2 separate regions of the Homo sapiens genome follow, and region 2 is linked to region 1. The links come from fine-mapping of genetic effects on gene expression. A gene starts in region 1. The other region holds a variant in brackets. All regions are shown on one strand. Distances are from middle to middle.

Region 1 (5,000 bases):
CGAGGATGCAGAAATGGGTGCAGGATGCAGAAACGGGTGCAGGATGCAGAAATGGGACTAGGGGGGCTTGTTTGTGTTTTTTGACCTGCAGAACTCAGATATCCAAATGAGTGTCATTCCCATTTGGAGTTGGTGAATGGAGGGGAGTGGGGAAATCTCTGGACTTTTTTGAGTATTCAAAGGCATTTGGCAAAACCTTTTAAACTGCCTACTTGGCCTGCAACACACACTCCTTGGTATAAATTCACTGGTGGCAATGTCTTTATGTTTTTAGGTGCAGATCTGATTTCTGAAACAAGCTGATTGTTCTTTGGAGTCAAGTTTAGCTGAAAATAGATGGTTAGGCTGGAGAATAGAATTTCAAGTTTAAATGACAGACTATGACCACCTTTAGAGCAGAAATGATATCTCTAGCATTTTCCACAGAGCTTGGAACAAAGTAAGTGCTTAATGACAATTTTTTTCCATAGGGCAGATGAGGTATGACTTTAAGGTGTTGCTCTTCTATTCTTCACAAAGTCATTACTTAGAAGGTGATACTTGGCCAGGTGCGGTGGCTCACACCTATAATTCCAGCACTTTGGGAGACCAAGGCGGTGGTTCACTTGAGCCCAGGAGTTTGAGACCAGGCTGGGCAACATGGCAAAACCCTGTCTCTACTAAAAAAAAATAATAACAAAAAATTAGCTGGGCATGTTGGTGCACACCTGTAGTCCCAGGTACTCGGGAGGCTGAGGTGGAAGAATCACTTGAGCCTGGGAGGTGGAGATTGCAGTGAGGTGATATCAAGCCACTGCACTCCAGCCTGGGTGACAGAGTAAGACTCTGTCTCAAAAAAAAAAAAAAAAAAAAAGTGATACCCAAGGAGGAGTACTGAACCATGAGTAAGCCCATTCTGACTTTTATAGACCCCGTTTTAGGTTAGCACATGGTGTCTTGCACATGGTAGGAATTAAATACATATTTGCACAATTAAAGTTTACAGAGGAAAACAAAAATCCAATCATATTTCCTGAGTTACAGAGCAACACTTTGGAAAGCAGGTATTGAGACAATCCTTCTTTCTGTCTTATCCAGACACACAGAATCTAATGTGGCAAGGGTGGAAACCAGTCTTTTGGAAACATAGAAAGACAGAGCAAAAAGAAAAATGTTAGAATGCTGATTATAATAGAGCACATACGTTTATGGAAATAATAGTTTATATTTTGAAGTTGTTTGGGGAGGTTTCTCATCATCGCTGATCTTAGCTGTAGACTTAATGTCTTGATTGCTAACAATATACCATCCTCCAATCCACCTGTCCTCAGCATTTGCATGGTTTACACTATTCTAAAAATGAAGTTACTAAAAGTAGTAGAAGTCAGATATCGCCTCTACAGTTTAAATTCATGTTTCCCATCAAAAACCATATTTGGAGGCTCTGGATTTAAATTGGAAACAAATGAGAGATAATTAGGAAGATTCAGGAAAAATTCAAAGAAGGAATTTATAAATTTGTTAAAATAACAGTCACTGTCACTATACTTGGCTTCTTATATACACTGAGTAAACCCCACCACGTTGTAAAAGAGACTATGATTCTCATTTTACAAATGAGCAAACTGAGGCTCAGAGTGGTTGAGTACTTTCTTAGGATCACACAGCTTGTATGTGGTCCAAGCCAGGGCTCAACAACAAGACCACATCTGCCTCCTTCCAGTTCCCTGTCATGCTTCCCTTACACATTTTATTTAGAAGCCTGGTGCACATGTTCAAGAATTGAACATACATAACCAAAGCAGAAAGCTATATTAGTCTGTGGTCTTGAAGAAGGATTGGAGTGTCAGGTTTTAACCCTGCTCAAGAGAACCAAGCGGGGCATTGGCCTTTCTGGGCTTCAGGGTCCCCCTTTTCTAGACAGAAAACATAGTGACCTACTTTGAAGGACTCTCAGAAGCACCCAGCATAAAGAAGGCTGCAAAGACAAAGAAAGCCTCTGGCTAAAAAACAAGGAAGGAATGAATCCATGGAACAAGACAGGTGCCCTCTCTGATCCAAACCTATAACAAGGGGGAAAAAAACAAAAGTGCCCAGGTCTCTTGTCCAACTACTCCTCCCCCCAATCCCCTACATATACTTTTCATATGTGAAAATTCTCTTTGAAATCACTGGAATTCTATTTGGAGAGAAAATACAAGGAGACAGGTCAAGCTGCAGCCACAGGTCTTGGTCAAGTAGTTTAAATATCGTTAATCCTTTGCTTCTCCTCCTGCCTTTATTTAACCAAAAGAAAATGAGAGGAGTAGAAATCTAATTCATTGGTCTCTCTTTATAATCAGCCTTATAAAAAGCAGAGAGATGCTGCAGGGAATAGGAAATAGGCTTTATGAGTCTAAGTGAATTTTAGCCTACTATGTTCTCCCTCTATCAGAAGCACATAAACTTTAGAGTCACACTAAACTTTCCTCCAAAATCAACGTCTTAAAATGCTACATTAAAAAACAAAACAAAACAAACAAAAAAAAAACACTTACTGTCCAGGGGTTCAATAAGCGAAGTCCAAAGTCAAGGGAATGATCTCTCTCTTTTATGAAAAACACCATATGGTCTTGGTGGATCAGGAGGCTCACTGGTCTGTTATTAATAACTGGCTTAGAGCTTTATGAAGAAACATGAGCCAGAATGTCACGGGAGGAGGCAAGTGGAAAGAAATTGACAGGCACAGGTGGAACAAATTATAACAAAGATATACTTATGCCCACACAGGAGCTCAAAGAACCCATGAGAAGGAGATCAGTTCCTCCACAATCAATAGACCCTTATGTCAAGTTTTTGAAGAGTTAAACAACCAACAAAATATCCTGAATGTCGGCAGGGAACATCACACACCAGGGCCTGTCGGGGAGGGGGTGGGAGCCGGGGGGAGGGATAGCATTAGGAGAAATACCTAATGTAAGTCAGAAGTTGATGGGTGCAGCAAACCAACATGGCATATGTATACCTATGTAACAAACCTGCATGTTGTGCACATGTACCCTAGAACTTGAAGTATAATAATAATACAAAAAATCAGGAATGTCAAAAAGACACCATGACTCATTTAATGTTATACTATCCTTTGCTCTTCTGAACAATTATTTTCCATGGACATCTGAATATCTTCTTAAATTTATACATTTTACCTTGTTTATATTGACTCCTCAATTTTAAAAATCTATCAACAAATGGATTTTGAAATGCATGTTATCAACTTTTTAAAGTTTGTTTACCTGTGAGCATATCAGCTGGCTTCCCTTAGAGATCCCAAAACAATTCCTGGAAACATATAGGTACATGTGGGGGTTGGAGGCTGGATCTTGGGATTGTATCATACATAAATTCATGTGGTAAGAATGGAGGTGTAATCATCACTTTACTTCTGGTTGGCAGTGGCTCTCCTCTTTTGGAAACTTATATTTCAAAACATTCCAAATTCTGTGCCTTCCCTCCTCCCCCATAAATGGCATCAAATTGTTTATAATATTAACAGTATGTCTTTATACCTAATTACATTAAACACTGGTTCTGTCTGAAGTATTAAAAGAAACTGACAATTATGTGGCTGGGAGTGGTGGCTCATGCCTGTAATACCAGCACTTTGGAAGGCCAAAGCAGGCAGATGGCTTGAGCTCCGAAGTTCGAGACCAGCCTGGGCAGCATGGTGAAACCCAGTATCTACAAAAAAAATACAGAAAAGTAGCCAGGTATGGTGGCACATGCCTGCAGTCCCAGCTACTCAGGAGGCTGAGGTAGAAGGATCACTTGAACCCTGGAGACAGAGGTTGCAGTGAGCCAAGATCATGCCATGGCACTACAGCCTAGGTAACAGAGCAAGACTCTGTCTCAAAAAATAAAAAAGAAAACTGACAATTAGAGAAAAGTTACTGAAATACATAAAGATTGTTAAATTGCTTCTTTTTTTCTTTTTCAATAGAGATAGGGACTCACTCTGTCACCCAGGCTGAAGTGCAGTATCATGATCATAGCCCACTGCAGCTTTGAACTCCTGAGTTTAAGCAATCCTCCCACCTTGGCCTCTTGAGTAGCTGGGACCATAGGCACGCGCCACTGCACTCAGCTAAATTTTCTTTTTTTTTTTTTGTAGAGATGAGGTCTTGCCTGGTCTTGAATCCTGGACTCAAGTGACCCTTTGCCTCTGTCTCCCAATGTGATGGAATTACAGCCGTGAGCCACTGCACCCAGCCAACTGCTTCATTCTTAAGGTTCCAGCTACTTCTCACCCTGGCTCAGATCTAGTAACTGCTCTTTTGTCAAACTAAACCTTTTTCAGCTAAACGCTGTGGTCGGTGGGGTGGATACCTCACTACAAACCTCACCCAGTGGAATGTTATTCTACTGAGGCAACTGTGAAAAAGAGAAACTGATATGCTAGTGACGCTCAGTTTAATAGATGGGAGAGAAGGAGTGGAATAGGTATATGGCCTTTCTTTTTTTTCCATTCTCTGGTCAATTAAAAAATTTTGAGTACCCACTGAATATATGTATTTTTATTTATAGAACATATGCATATACTATTGTAAATATATCATTTAAATCATAAAATATAAACACAATTTTTAAAAGAAGAAATGTAAAAATAAATAGACATTCTAATATTTTCTTACCACACTTCCAATGGGTCATCTTTACTGGTCCCTGGGGCATGGACACTCCACTCTGCAGCTGACTGATGAGTGTTCAGAACACCAGGCCCACCACTTATTAGCTGTTGTGGGTTGAACTGCATCCCCTAGAGACATTTTCAAGCCCAAGTCCTCAGTACCTGTGAATGTGACCCTATTTGGAAATAGGGCCTTGCTGATATAATCAAAATGAGATCATGCTGGATTAGGGTGGGCCCTAATCCAATGACCTGAGTCCTTGTGAGAAGTGGGAAATGGGGACATAGTCAGGCACATAGGGAGACATCATGTGACAAAGGAAATAGATATTGGAGTGACGTGTCCACAAGCCAAGGA
Region 2 (5,465 bases), 40 kb after region 1:
TTGAAATCTATAATCTCATAAAAGATTCTTATAAACATATACCATATTTCTCCTATAAGAAAAACTGAGAACTGTACCATGAAGGCAAAATTTGTTTGCCTACTCTCAGAATTCCTTGGAATGGCAATGTACCAGGAGGGTGAGTGAACTGTTGGTGAAAATTCCGGGTTTGACATGGCCCAGTCTGATCACATCAAAAACCTAAAGCCTCAATGATTAAATGCCAAACTTCTTCCCTGCATCTGAGAACTGTATTATGATTATGTATATTACACATACATTATAAATAAAATTTATATAGACCTACAGTTTCTTCCAAACAATTGAGTGATGTTCTCAGTTTGGGGGTGGAAGCAGGAAGAGGTGAAAAAATCTTATTGTTGCTTTTACTCTCAAGTTCTTAAAACGCTAGTCAAACACTATTATCCAACAAGACTTTTTTTTTTCATTCTGTTAACTCTTAAATATGCATTCGAAGGCAAAAATGGAGGTTTCTATACTGTACAATATTAAATATCTACAATGTCATGGTTCCTTATTTTTAGGAGTGTGTTTAATAAAGAGTTGGCTATTAGAGATGGTTGTCACAAAACATGGACTCTTAAAAATTACTGATAAATTACTTTTCAGTTCTCTGATTATATCCAACAGATACACATTCTTGTCATAAAATATACATTCTCTAGTAAGTTATTTTCATCCACAGCATATATAAATATGCAAACACAGGTGGTAAAAATCACTTTACTACCAAAGTACAAAACAGCAACTGCTGAAAAACAAAAATTAAGATGTTGCACGTGTTAAGAAAAGAGTGACTCAGTGTTCCACTGCAAAGTGAAACCAAATGATTTATTTGTGCTAAATGAATGGAAATAATGTATTCAGAATATACTTCTTTGTACACTGCACTTGCTTATACTGGGTGAAATGAACAGCCATCAATGCTAATGTGCTACTTTCCTTTAGACCTTATTTTCTTTTCTGCCAAGCAATACAATATTTTCTGGCCATTATGCCAAGATAATGCGATAATGTCCATTTCAAATAGTATTTTCTAATGGTATTTTGCACCTTTAAAATATTTGTTCAAACTCTATTTTAAGAGAACACAAATGAAGTACGAAAGGGGGAAGCCGCATTGTTTTTGTTACAATCACACTGCCTTCTGCAGCAGAAATCAAATAACACATTCTAATTAGCCATTGAAACCACCGGTGAGTAGGACAACATTTATCGACTCATGTTAGAGGGGGCCAGGTTAAGTAGATTAACATTAAGGATAAAAAAGAGAATCACATCTTAATATACGATAATTATCCATCCCATTTATGTGGAGAAGGTACAGCCACATGATTCATTACTTTGGGCCATCTGTTTTACGAGAGACATGGATGTCAATAACACAATGAAAATAACCTGTAAAAAATGTATCTGTAGAAAGTTCTGTTAAACAGAAAATATGTCTTGGGCACTGATTCATCTAACTTTCTGTTCTACACTGAAAGCCAGATTTTCAAAGGTCTGAATTGTAGTGCTGAATTATTGGTATGTTTGGTAAACACTATTATAATGAGAGGAGGGTAACAACAGCTCAGTAATTTTCTGCAGATTCATGGAAAAAAATATAAAAAAGATATCCCTTTTTCTTTTACAAACCTAAAAGCCAGGAGAATGAAGCTCTGGGCCAAGCAAAAATTGCACACTGCTGCTGAAATACCAAATACCAAACAGCGAAGGTTCCAGCCAGGGAATGGACGTACATGAAGATTCAAGTAAAACACTGATGGAAAAAGTCGTCTGGTTAGTGTTGTAGACCCACAACACTGGCTGCATTTCTGACAAACATTTACAACACAATGGATAGTGAAGCCTAGATAACCTCAGTGCAAATAAGTCATATCCAAATATGCCAGAGAAGGAAGCCTTTGGCGTTGAGTAGACGGCTCCATTGGATGAGTCCCAACTTGAAATTCAGACTAAGCTCATGCATTAAGGCTGGGAGGAGGGGTGCGCCGAATGTTGCGAAGGAGTAGGCTGCGAGGTGGCTGCTGAGGGGACCGTGGGCTGCATGGGTGGCGGAGGTGGAGG[C/T]GGAGGTGGCTGGACTGGGGTCTGTGTGTTGGGAGATGGAGGCGGCGTGGGCCGTTTGAATTTGTCAGGACTGTTGCTTCTCCGTGGTGAAGGCCTCTGCAGAGGGGACAGGAACAGCAAGTCAGTCTAGGTACAGGTGGATCTCATTCTACCTAACACAGCCTGACTTGGCACTGGGGCTAATCAAACACTAACCAACAAAGACAAGAAACCAGGGATTTCTTTCTTCATCCCTACTGGTTTCTGAACTAGTAATAAAATTTAAATAAGGCAGTGTTTACACTTCCACCTATGAAAAAGCTACATAAAATTACTGCACAACTTGTGTTGAACAAACTGCTGGACTTGGGTCCTTCAACGAGAGCTGTAAAATATCCCCTTAAATCTTTCTTTCCGTGTGTGTCACCAATTCCCTCTATTGCTTATCTCCAATAAGTTGTCCACATCCTGAAAGATACAGCTCAACAGAAATGTTTCTATGTTTGAGGCCGGGTGCAGTGGCTCACACCTGTAATCCTAGCACTTTAGGAGGTAGAGGTGGGTGGATAACCTGAGGCCAGGAGTTCGAGACCAGCCTGGCCAACAGGGCAAAACCCCGTCTCTATTAAAAATACAAAAAGCAGCCAGGTGTGGTGCCGTGTGCCTGTAATACCAGCTACTCGGGAGGCTGAGGCAAGAGAATCCCTTGAGCTCCGGAGGCGGATGTTGCAGTGAGCAGACATCATGCTGCTGAACTCCAGCCTGGATGACAGAGTGAGGAAAAAAAAAAAAAAAGTTCCTACTTTTACATAAAGTCCATCAAACTGGCCAAACAGCTTCAGAAATACCTTAAGTGCATTCTTAGAATAGGGTTCTTCTTTAAAATATTATAATTTATTCTTTGAAATATTGGTATTTCTGTTATTGGAAATACCCTTAATAATACTCTCACTCTACTAGCTACATTTCTAATGGCTCTATTAGTCAACTATATTGCCGACTCTAAAGAAAAAACTCCCTTGGGTAGAGTTGGAACCAGATGCACTTAAGCTTCCTTGTAATTCGAGGAGAGAAAATTCTGAGTAACATTACAAACAAGGCTAACTTCAGGAAGAATACTGAAGGTCAGTGAACTGTGAAGGTGCAGACAATAAATATCTTTAGACATTATGGCAACCAACAATAATGCAAGGAGCTGGCCAGAGTTCAATCAAAGCACTGGCCAGAGTTCAAATTATATTTCACAAAGGGTAATTTTTCATAGGAAGTGAAGTTAAAGTTTTGTCTCCTGGGAAGGATTTTAGTTTCAATACCAGAATTTGGTATCAAACTGTTTAAGTCTCTACAGTTTCAAGGTGAACGGATGGAGGAGGCAGGAAGAAGGGCAAATGTCTAAGGGCACCGATCCTGTTCTCCAGAACACCAGTCGGTACCACTTTCAGGAGTAAAGTGCTGCTTCCTACCCCACGGACACTTACTGTGATACCATGGGATGTTCCCATGTGCTGCACGTGAAGACCCGGGGAATTGTAATAAGACATTCCAGCTCTAGTCAGTGAAGTTGGTGGCGTGAAACCAACCGTGTGACTTGCATATGATAGACCTAAAATATAACAACAAATTAAGTATCATTTTAAGCTCAACTATCTGGTGTCTTCAACTATCTAGGAGGTTTTAAATCGCAGTAGTTCTCTATCACCCACAAAAATACAAACAGATGAAAAGAATGATGGGCTCACTAAATGGTGTGGATAACAAGGGAAATAAATGTTAATTCCTAGGATAGAACAGAGAGCCCAGAAATAAACTCACACGTATATGGTCAACTGATCTTCAAAAAGGGCACCAAGAATACACAACGGGGAAAGAGAACAGTCTCTTCAACAGATGGTGTTGGGAAAACTGGATATTCACATGCAGAGGAGTGACACTGGACCTTATCTCTTACACTATATACAAAAGTCAACTCAAAATGGATTAAAGACTTAACTATAAGACCTTAAACTATAAAACTCTTAGAAGGAAAATAGGGGAAAAGCTCCCTGACATTGATCTTAGCAATGATTTCTTGGATATGACATAGGCAACAAAAAAAAAAAGCAAAAACAAATACGTGGGACTACATTCAACTAAAAAGTGTCTGCGCTAAGGAAACTTTCAGTCAACAGACTGAAAAGGCAACCTATAGAATGGGAGGAGATATTTGCAAACCATATACCTGGTATGGGGTGAATATGCGAAATACATAAGTAACTCCTATGACTCAAAGCAAACAAACACACTCAAATAGTCCAATGAAAAAATGCACAGAGAACTTGAATACACATTTCTCTAAAAAAGATACACAAATGTGCTAATAGATATATGAAAAGACGATTATCACCACTAACCATCAGGGAAATGCAAATCAAAACCACAGTGAGATATCACCTCATAACTGTTAAGTTGGCCATTATTATTTTTTTTCTTATTCATTTTTATTATTATTATTATTATACTTTAAGTTTTAGGGTACATGTGCACAATGTGCAGGTTAGTTACATATGTATACATGTGCCATGCTGGTGTGCTGCACCCATTAACTCGTTATTTAGCATTAGGTATATCTCCTAATGTTATGCCTCTCCCCTCCCCCCACCCCACAACAGTCCCTAGAGTGTGATGTTATTCCCCTTCCTGTGTCCATGTGTTCTCATTGTTCAATTCCCACCTATGAGTCAGAACATGTGGTGTTTCGTTTTTTGTCCTTGCGATAGTTTACTGAGAATGATGATTTCCAATTTCATCCATGTCTCTACAAAGGACATGAACTCATCATTTCTTATGGCTGCATAGTATTCCATGGTGTATATGTGCCACATTTTCTTAATCCAGTCTATCGTTGTTGGACATTTGGGTTGGTTCCAAGTCTTTGCTATTGTGAATAGTGCCACAATAAACATACCTGTGCATGTGTCTTTATAGCAGCATGATTTGTAGTCCTTTGGGTATATACCCAGTAATGGGATGGCTGGGTCAAATGGTATTTCTAGTTCTAGATCCCTGAGGAATCACCACACTGACTTTCACAATGGTTGAAATAGTTTACAGTCCCACCAACAGTGTAAAAGTGTTCCTCTTTCTCCACATCCTCTCCAGCACCTGTTGTTTCCTGACTTTTTAATGATTGCCATTCTAACTGGTGTAAGATGGTATCTCACTGTGGTTTTGATTTGCATTTCTCTGATGGCCAGTGATGGTGAGCATTTTTTCATGTGTTTTTTGGCTGCATAAATGTCTTCTTTTGAGAAGTGTCTGTTCATGTCCTTCGCCCACTTTTTGATGGGGTTGTTTTTTTCTTGTAAATTTGTTTGAGTTCATTGTAGATTCTGGATATTAGCCCTTTGTCAGATGAG

Direction of the effects. Positions count from the first base shown, and alleles are read on the strand shown. Sizes are in standard deviations (SD) of each study's normalised expression.
With allele T in place of C in region 2, the expression in nucleus accumbens of the gene that starts at base 2,618 in region 1 is higher (moderate effect, 0.48 SD a copy in GTEx).

What was found. PIP is the estimated chance that this variant, and not a neighbour inherited with it, causes the effect.
Region 2: its variant is the best candidate, but not a certain one, in a credible set for the expression of MRLN in nucleus accumbens (GTEx, PIP 0.90).

Annotation. Positions count from the first base shown.
Region 1 is chr10:59,750,838-59,755,837 of GRCh38, forward strand. It overlaps MRLN (myoregulin), which reads right to left and starts at 2,618. Exons shown (of 3, transcript NM_001304731.2): 1 at 2,517-2,618.
Region 2 is chr10:59,790,925-59,796,389 of GRCh38, forward strand. CCDC6 (coiled-coil domain containing 6) reads right to left here. Exons shown (of 9, transcript NM_005436.5): 8 at 3,549-3,673; 9 at 1-2,187. The coding sequence ends at 1,993. Among named protein-coding and RNA genes, the nearest start is that of MRLN, 40 kb to the left of the region's middle. The variant C/T (reference allele first, on the strand shown) is at 2,092.